2 linked regions of the Homo sapiens genome follow. The protein of the gene in region 1 interacts with the protein of each later gene in a pairwise test. Each region holds a gene or a part of one and is shown in the gene's direction. Other genes may lie near its edges. The genes, in order: IQGAP3 and CCDC198.

Region 1 (3,500 bases):
ACAAAAATTCGCCGGGTGTTGTGGCGCACTCCTGCAGTCCCAGCTACTCGGGAGGCTGAGGCAAGAGAATCACTTGAACCTGGGAGGTTGCGGTGAGCCGAGATTGCACCACTGCACTCCAGCTCTAGGCAACAGAGTGAGACTCTGTCCCCCCGCAAAAAAAAAAAAAAAAATTTGCTGGGAGTTAGGATATGGACTCCTATTGATAGGGGTATAGAAGAATATTTCTATTTACAGATGAATAGGCAAATGAGATAGTGGGAGAGATAGGTTGCCCTTATAGCCTGGGGTCATTACTCAGGTCCCTAGGTGCTAGGGAAACCTAGCCACAGAGGCGAGCAGGCAATCCTGGTGGCTGCTCTGGATGGCACAGGAGGCTTTAGGTGAGGGAACTATAAGGCTCTGGCCCAGCCTCTCCATTATTCCAAACTCCCAAAGACTATTTGCAGCGCAGCCGCCTGCTTGTCATCTGTTCCCCTTAGAAGGGTCCCTAGATTCCACGTTCTCTGTTCCTTCCTACATTCTTCCAGCTTCCCTGTAGATACTCCAACTCTTCTTTACCTCCCGACTGCATTTCTCCAGTCCTTTCTCTCATTCTGGCCCTTTCTCCTTTAGCATGCTGAGCTGTCCTTAGCACATCTGTATGAGATCTTGTTGTTAGACAAGCGTTTAAGGAATAGGGCCTTGGGGAAGGAGGCCATTGGAGGGGGCTCCTGCTTACACCTTGTCTCTCTCTGCTCATAGCCATCTCCCATATGATGTCACCCCGGAGCAGGCCTTGAGCCACCCCGAGGTCCAGAGACGACTGGACATCGCCCTACGCAACCTCCTCGCCATGACTGATAAGTTCCTTTTAGCCATCACCTCATCTGTGGACCAAATTCCGTATGTGCAACAGCCCCACCCCAGCCTACGCATGGGATTTCAAGAGGGCCAGGCCACCATGGGGAGCAGAGCAGGGTGATAGTCCTGCAGGGAGGAAGGCAGGGAGGGAGATGGAGCCAGGGGTACTCAGAGGGGTTCCTGAAGAGATGTGGGGAATGCTCGAAGCTCCTGCTAGAGAGCTGAGCTGAGAGACGGCGTGCAAGTCTGTGTGTGGCCTGGTAGGATGTCAGTGGAACCAGAGGAGGGACCCTAAAATGATCTCAGGGACACTTTATTAGCTAAGAGCAAATGAGGAGAAAATGGGACTCTTCAGTTCCCAATATCAAAAATAAATATTTTAAGCCCATAAAGTACTTTATAGTTCTCTCTTTTCTTAAAATTTAGTCAATACGTTTGGTTTTCTACATTTATTTTTGACACATGATAATTGTACATATTCATAGGGTATAGTGTGATGTTTTGATACGTGTATACATTGTGCAATGAATGATCAAATCAGGGTAATTAGCATATCTATTACCTCAAACATTTATTTCTTTTTGGTGAGAACATTCAAAATCCTTCTAGCTATTTTGAGATATACAACACATTATTATCAACTATAGTCACCTTCTGTGCAATAGAGCACCAGAACTTATTCTTTCTACCTGGATGTAACTTTGTACCCATTGACCAACCTCTCCCCATCCTCTCTCCCCTTCTCCTACCCTCCCCAGACTCCGGTAACCACCATTCTACTCTCTACTCCTGTGAAATCACCTTTTTAAGATTCCACATATGAGTGAGATTATGCAGTATTTGTCCTTCTGTGTTTGGCTTATGTATGTCACTTAACACGAACCTCTACGTTCATCTATGTTGTCGAAAATGACAGGCTTTCATTCTTTTTTTGTTTGTTTTTCTTTATTTTTTATTATTATTATTTTTAAGACAGGGTCTCACTCCATTGCCCAGGCTGGAATGCCCAGGGCAAGATGAGGATGTTGAAAGGGGGAACCCACAGAGTTTATAACCCTGCTCCCCAAACCTGGAGAACCGGATTAAGAGTTTACAATTAGGAGTAAGAAAAGATTGTTCTAGGCTTAAGAAAGTAAAGTACACAATGAGCTGTAAACTTCTGTCTCTGGTACCCTAGGAGTGGAAATTGCTTTTAAATGAATTTAATTACATTTGTAGGTGGCACATCCATAATAGGAATAATAATGATAATACAGTCTAGCACATTTGAATAGTACTCTACCATTATACGTTACTCTCGCAGACATAATTTCACTTGATCCTCAAAAAGCCCTGTGAGAAGAGAAGGCAAGAATGATCATTCCCATTTTCTAGACCAGGGGACAGACTTACAAAGGAGAAGGAAATAGTCTAAGATAATATCTCTGGTTGGTGGTGGAGTCCAAACTGGAGCTTCTCCTCCCGGCTCACTGATCTCCTTGGGGCCCTACCTCTAGCCCAGACTAGGCCACTCACAGATGCTCTGTGACAGCTGACAAGGTTGACTACCTCGGAGCCACCTAGGCTGTCCTAGGACAGGGTTTTGGCTGTGAGTGTCAGATACCCAAGCTTTAGGTTAATGGTGCCTCTGGGGGATGGGGGATGGCTATGGTGAGCTGGGGTGCTCTGCAGGGGACCCAGAGAGTCTCAAAGAAGAGGTTCTCGAGCCAGGTTGGAGGCTGTGTGAGAGATTTAGTAGATGATAGGGCCCTGGTCCTGACTACTGACATAAGGCAGGAGGAAGGGACAAGGCCCAGAGACGTTTGGAGGAAGGCAGCAGGGAGCTGGCTATGGCTAGTGGAGGGACAGTGCTTGAGCTCTACTCTGGAGTGGCTGAGCCTGGGGGAGAAGAGACAGCCAGGCACTCAAGCTCTTATCTCTGGCAGAGAGAGATGGGCAGAGGCACAGCCACGCGCACCTGTTTCTTTGTCCCCAGGTATGGGATGCGATATGTGGCCAAAGTCCTGAAGGCAACTCTGGCAGAGAAATTCCCTGACGCCACAGACAGCGAGGTCTATAAGGCAAGTGTTGTCTCCCCACCCCCACCTCCCAATCCCTCCTTTGCTTTGCTGGTACCTGCAATCCCCAGACTGAGACAAAAACACAAAAAATCCTATGCCATAAAAATCCAAGGAGGGAAATATGCTGCCCCCTATAAATGGAGCCTGGCTCACCCGCAGGGCTTCAGGTGGCAGATGGCTCATGCTGGGGTGTGAGCGAACAGAGTGGGCAACACTGGCTTCTTGTCAGGAGATCTGGGTTCAAGTCCCAGCTCTTGCTCAGGTTTGCTGTGTGGCCTTAAGCAAGTTGTCTGCCTGCTCTGGGCCTGTTTTCTTTGAAGTGAGGGGGTTGGCCCAGGTGTCCCTTCCAGCCAAGCAAGCTGAGAATGTGGGGCCGCACCAGTCAAGGCGGCCCCTGGACACTTCTGGGAGAGTCTCCTTTGCCCTCAGGTGGTCGGGAACCTCCTGTACTACCGCTTCCTGAACCCAGCTGTGGTGGCTCCTGACGCCTTCGACATTGTGGCCATGGCAGCTGGTGGAGCCCTGGCTGCCCCCCAGCGCCATGCCCTGGGGGCTGTGGCTCAGCTCCTACAGCACGCTGCGGCTGGCAAGGCCTTC
Region 2 (4,537 bases), on another chromosome or scaffold:
TGTTAGTTCGCAATACATTCCCCTGCCCTTAGAAATACTTAAACTGATTGTACTAAAAAATAAATCTTACTAGACCTTACTCAAGTATTATTATCCTTGTAATTAAGCTAGTCTGTTTACCAGAGGCTGTTGTGTTTGCAGATACTGTTAATATATTAGTCTTTACTTATAAACCTCTCTGCTGCAGAGAAAATGATGTGGAAAATGCAAAGAGAGTAAGGAAAAAACTAAATTCAGGCATCTTTTTAGATAAACGTGATTGTCTACCAAGACTTTCCAAACATCACCTTAGTCCCTTAGGAAATGGATTCTGCAAAGATGAAAAATAAATTTTCTTTTAATTTCTTTATGGAGATGTGATGAAAACACAAGTAATCTGTGCTCATGAACAATTAGAGCTTGAAAGTTAGTCCCACTTCTAAGTATAAAGAATAAAATAAAAATCACCCATAATCCCACCATTCAAAAATCACTACTCAATATTTCGGCACATTTCCTTCCAGTCTTTTTTTCTACTTTAAAAATCATAATAGACCAGGCACTGTGGCTCATGCGTGTAATCCCAGCCCTTTGGGAGGCCAAGACAGGTGGATCTCTTGAGGTCAGGAGTTCGAGACCAGCCTGGCCAACATGGTGAAACCCCTTCTGTACTAAAAAATACAAAAATTAGACAGGTGTGGTGGTAGTAGGTGCCTGTAATCCCAGCTACTTGGGTGGCTGACTCAGGAGAATCACTTGAACTGGTGAGGCGGAGGTTGTGGTGAGCCAAGATCGCTGGGCTTGGGTGACTCCAGCTTGGGTGACAGAGTGAGACTCTGTCTCAAAAATAAATAAATTAATTTAATTTAGTTTAAAAACATAGTAAATAGGTTATCTTCAAAAACTCAAGGTTTACTTAGACCATTTATTCAAGAATTTTTTCCCCTTATCCCCAGGAAAAAAATTTCTATTATCCTCCTGTCCTGCAATGTATTCACCCCCTTCAAAGGCAACTCAAGTCATCGACAGAAAAATCAAATGACGCTTTAGCCGCTCCGCTGCTTTCTTTCCTATTTGGGGGATAAATTCTTTAATTAAATTAAAGATTAACAAAGCCTTGGCAATCAGCATGCATCCTCTTAATTGCAAAGATGGCTTAGCTATTCTCAGCAGTTAGTTTTTTTACAAAGGTACTTGCAATGAAAGGGTCAAGTTTAAGACTTCTCTAAACCTCTGCTCTACATCTCTCTCTGTTAATAACCTTCCTGGTGTTCGATATTTGTTTAATGATCAACAGTGGCTTCTATTCCTATCACTGAGTATTTCAGAAAGTAGCATAACCAAGTCAATGTTTAACTGGATTCTTTGGGTCTGAAACGGCAAAGTTGAAGGGAAGTCTCCATGGAAACCAGCCTCCCAGGAAGTGGCCAAAAGGGTTAGTGTGCAGTGAAACAGAGCTAGAAGGATGCCATGAAGGAAATGACTGCTTTGTAAAGCGAGGGTAAACTTCTGAAATGCTTTGATTAAAATAAGCTATATTAAAGACCCCAAAACCACTTCCCTCGCAGCTTTCCTCTGAATGTCTTTCACATGAAATGGGCCTGAGTCACTCTAAGACTCACCTTAGGGTGATCAAAGTAGCACCTTTGCAAAACAAAGAGGTAGAGACTCCCTCGGCTGGCCGTGTGGACTTTGCATTCAATCAGAATTTGGAAGAAAAGACTTCATATTCACTGGCAAGACTGCAGGACCAGAATAAAGCCTTGGAAGGGCAGCTGCCACCTTTACAAGAAAACTGGTATGGAAGATATTCTACAGGTAAACATAAAACCCAGCATGAGATGTGTGTATCTGGACCAAGGAGCATTATTAATAGGTTTATCTGACTGTCTCCATGATCTCAGAAAGTTTCTAAATTCCTGAAATGTAAAGGAATTTAGGCTATCTTTGAAAACTCAAATCTTTCAATGAGGATTGAACATCAGTTGAAAGTATTCTGGGTTCATTAGAATGGGAGTATAAACTGTACAAAGGACTTTTCACTATTCCATATGAGAAGGATAAATCATTTTGTTTCAGCTCAGTTTGTAATGCTTTCAATGTTTATACCTAGTTTTGCCAGACCATTAAAATTATATAGATACTAGTGATAAATGATAGCAATCGCGTTTCAGTTAGATTCTAAATTTAAATCATTCTCTCCAGTATAGTTTAATGCACCAGACTTTGTGGTTTTGAAAGCAACACTTTAAGAGTGAGTTAATTCTAACATGAATTTTGAAACCACCCTAAACAGTATTGATTTATTGCAGTACAGAGGAGTGGATGAGTCACCCTTTTCCCAACCCCACATTCTTCATGGTCATCTGCAGAACTAACAGAATTCTTTCCCATTATGATTGGAAGCTCTGAGCCTGAAGTGGCCATAAATCCTGGGATATTTTATAAGCCATGTAAAATGTTTTATGATGACCACAATGATAATTAAACAGACATTCTCACTTAGAAAAATATATGTTTATTATATACATATATATATGTATATTGTTTTCCCTTTTCTTCACCTTCTGGATCAATAACACAAATAAGTTTCCCTTATTGGATGCCTTGTTCAGAAAGCCTCACATTCTCTTTTGGTACCTAGCAAATCTTGCCTGGAATGATTTTTCATGGCTATTGTCTGCAGAATTGATAACGTTTGGTTGTTTCTATATGGCCTGTTTTTATGTTCTTTATGTTCTTCAAGTTCTTAAGCACATGGATGGGAATTTTCCCCTTAGGAATTTTTTTATGATAGATAGAGGGATAGGTGATAGACATGATTTAAAAAATGGAGCGTGAATGTGTACTAAGAGTATGCAATGCTCCTATTGAGGAATTCCCTTTTTATCCAAACCCCCATTGAGAGTTTTAAGATTTTGGTGACAGAGAGAGACTCTGTCTCAATTAAAAGAAAAAAAAGATTTAGGTAACTGAATAAATGGTGAGCTTATGTCTGAAGTGACAAAATCACATTTAAAAATAAATAACAAGATCATGAGAATCCTCATGATCTCCCATATTCTCACCCCAGCTCCATCAAATACCAAATCGAATGACCTTGGGCAAGTTACTTCATCAATTTTTTTCACTTGTAATCAGGGGTAAAAATAAATGCCTGACACAGCCTATGCCAGTTGAGGAAAATCTAATTAAATAATGGAGTAATGTCACTAAAATAAAAAAAATAAGGATTAGTAAGCCTTCTGAAAAAATAGCTGAAAATACTTACATTGTTAAATCCAGTATGTTTGTTGTTTCCATCCTGCTCAATATGCTGGCATCTTTTCAAAAGAAAATAAGGACATAGTTTCCATCCCACTAAAAGTTAGAGAGAACAAAGTCCTTGAAGTGGTTATTCACATGTCTTAAGGAGAGAGATGCATAATTACCCAGGGATTTTTCCATTTAAAATGCAAAGTGGGACTGTAAAATAGTCTATGAAACAATCTAGAAGTCAGAATGTGTCCAGATTGTTAAAAGGGAAGGACAAGAACTTCATTCATGCAGCGCTGGTCATGGTAGCACTCCCAAGAGCTCAGGATAATCAAGCTGGAAAATAAAATCCATAATGGATCTGTTGAGCCTCTCTGTTTCCTAATAGAGGCTTAACTCTGTATCCCCAGCTTGTTTCATCAGGAAAGAATATTGATATGCTGTATTACAGTGGCAACCTGTGGAAATTTTTTTCACTAAAGGGGCTATTGAATTGTGTTCACACGTACTCCATTTCTTTCTCATCTCTGTATAATCACCTATCTATCTATCATCTATTTCATCTAAGAAGATTGTTTTCATTTTTTAAAGTTATATATTTTTCTGATGTCTTATATTTCAGGGAGGAGATTTTATGGAATTAAAATAAGTCAATAAATTTCTATTTTCCAGGCCAAATTCTGTTTGAAAAATATTTGCAGTCAACATATTGGTAATTTTGTAACTCTCCCCCTAAGTATGAACCTGAGTAGGAAGTTAGGAGAGCAGATATTAAATCCTGGGTCCAGACTAAAATAGTGTCATGTGCACTAATGTAGGTTCCCTGCTTTCTGTGTTTCATCTCCACATTCAACCCACAGGTTAGACATATATAACTGAAAAGGTACAAAATTGTGTTGACAAAGTCTAGTAACTAATGATTGCCTGATTTAATAGTAAATTATATTTAATGTTTTATTCCTGTTTCTTCCCCAATCCTTCAAGCATCCAGAGACATGTATTTTGACATCCCACTGGAACACAGAGAAACAAGTATTATTAAAAGGCATCCACCCCAAAGACTTCAAGTAAGATGAATTTAAAAGGCTTCATAAGGAATTTCTTGGATAAAATGGTAACATCCCTTTTTAAACTATAATCATCAAAGAGGGATATTGATAAGGACCAAGCTATTAATGAGAATGTTCTTAAAGAAAAATGTCATCAATCGCAAATACTCTATTACTTTAAGATTTCCTTTAGCAATGATTTCGCTTTTAAGACCAGCCACCGAAAGAAGCTAGTAGCAAGGACATAGATACCA

The links.
Region 2: the proteins of IQGAP3 (region 1) and CCDC198 interact in a two-hybrid assay, tested with the Homo sapiens proteins (one large-scale study listed by BioGRID).

Annotation. Positions count from the first base shown.
Region 1 is NC_000001.11:156,534,566-156,538,065, reverse strand, and holds part of IQGAP3 (ras GTPase-activating-like protein IQGAP3), read left to right. Parts: intron 1-744; coding exon 745-885; intron 886-2,818; coding exon 2,819-2,903; intron 2,904-3,332; coding exon 3,333-3,500.
Region 2 is NC_000014.9:57,490,753-57,495,289, reverse strand, and holds the start of CCDC198 (factor associated with metabolism and energy), read left to right. Parts: upstream 1-1,432; 5' UTR 1,433-1,574; coding exon 1,575-1,797; intron 1,798-3,250; exon of another isoform or gene 3,251-4,218; coding exon 4,219-4,301; exon of another isoform or gene 4,302-4,306; coding exon of another isoform or gene 4,307-4,348; intron 4,349-4,537. UniProt on the Homo sapiens protein: May be involved in tuning the metabolism, energy expenditure, and excretion processes.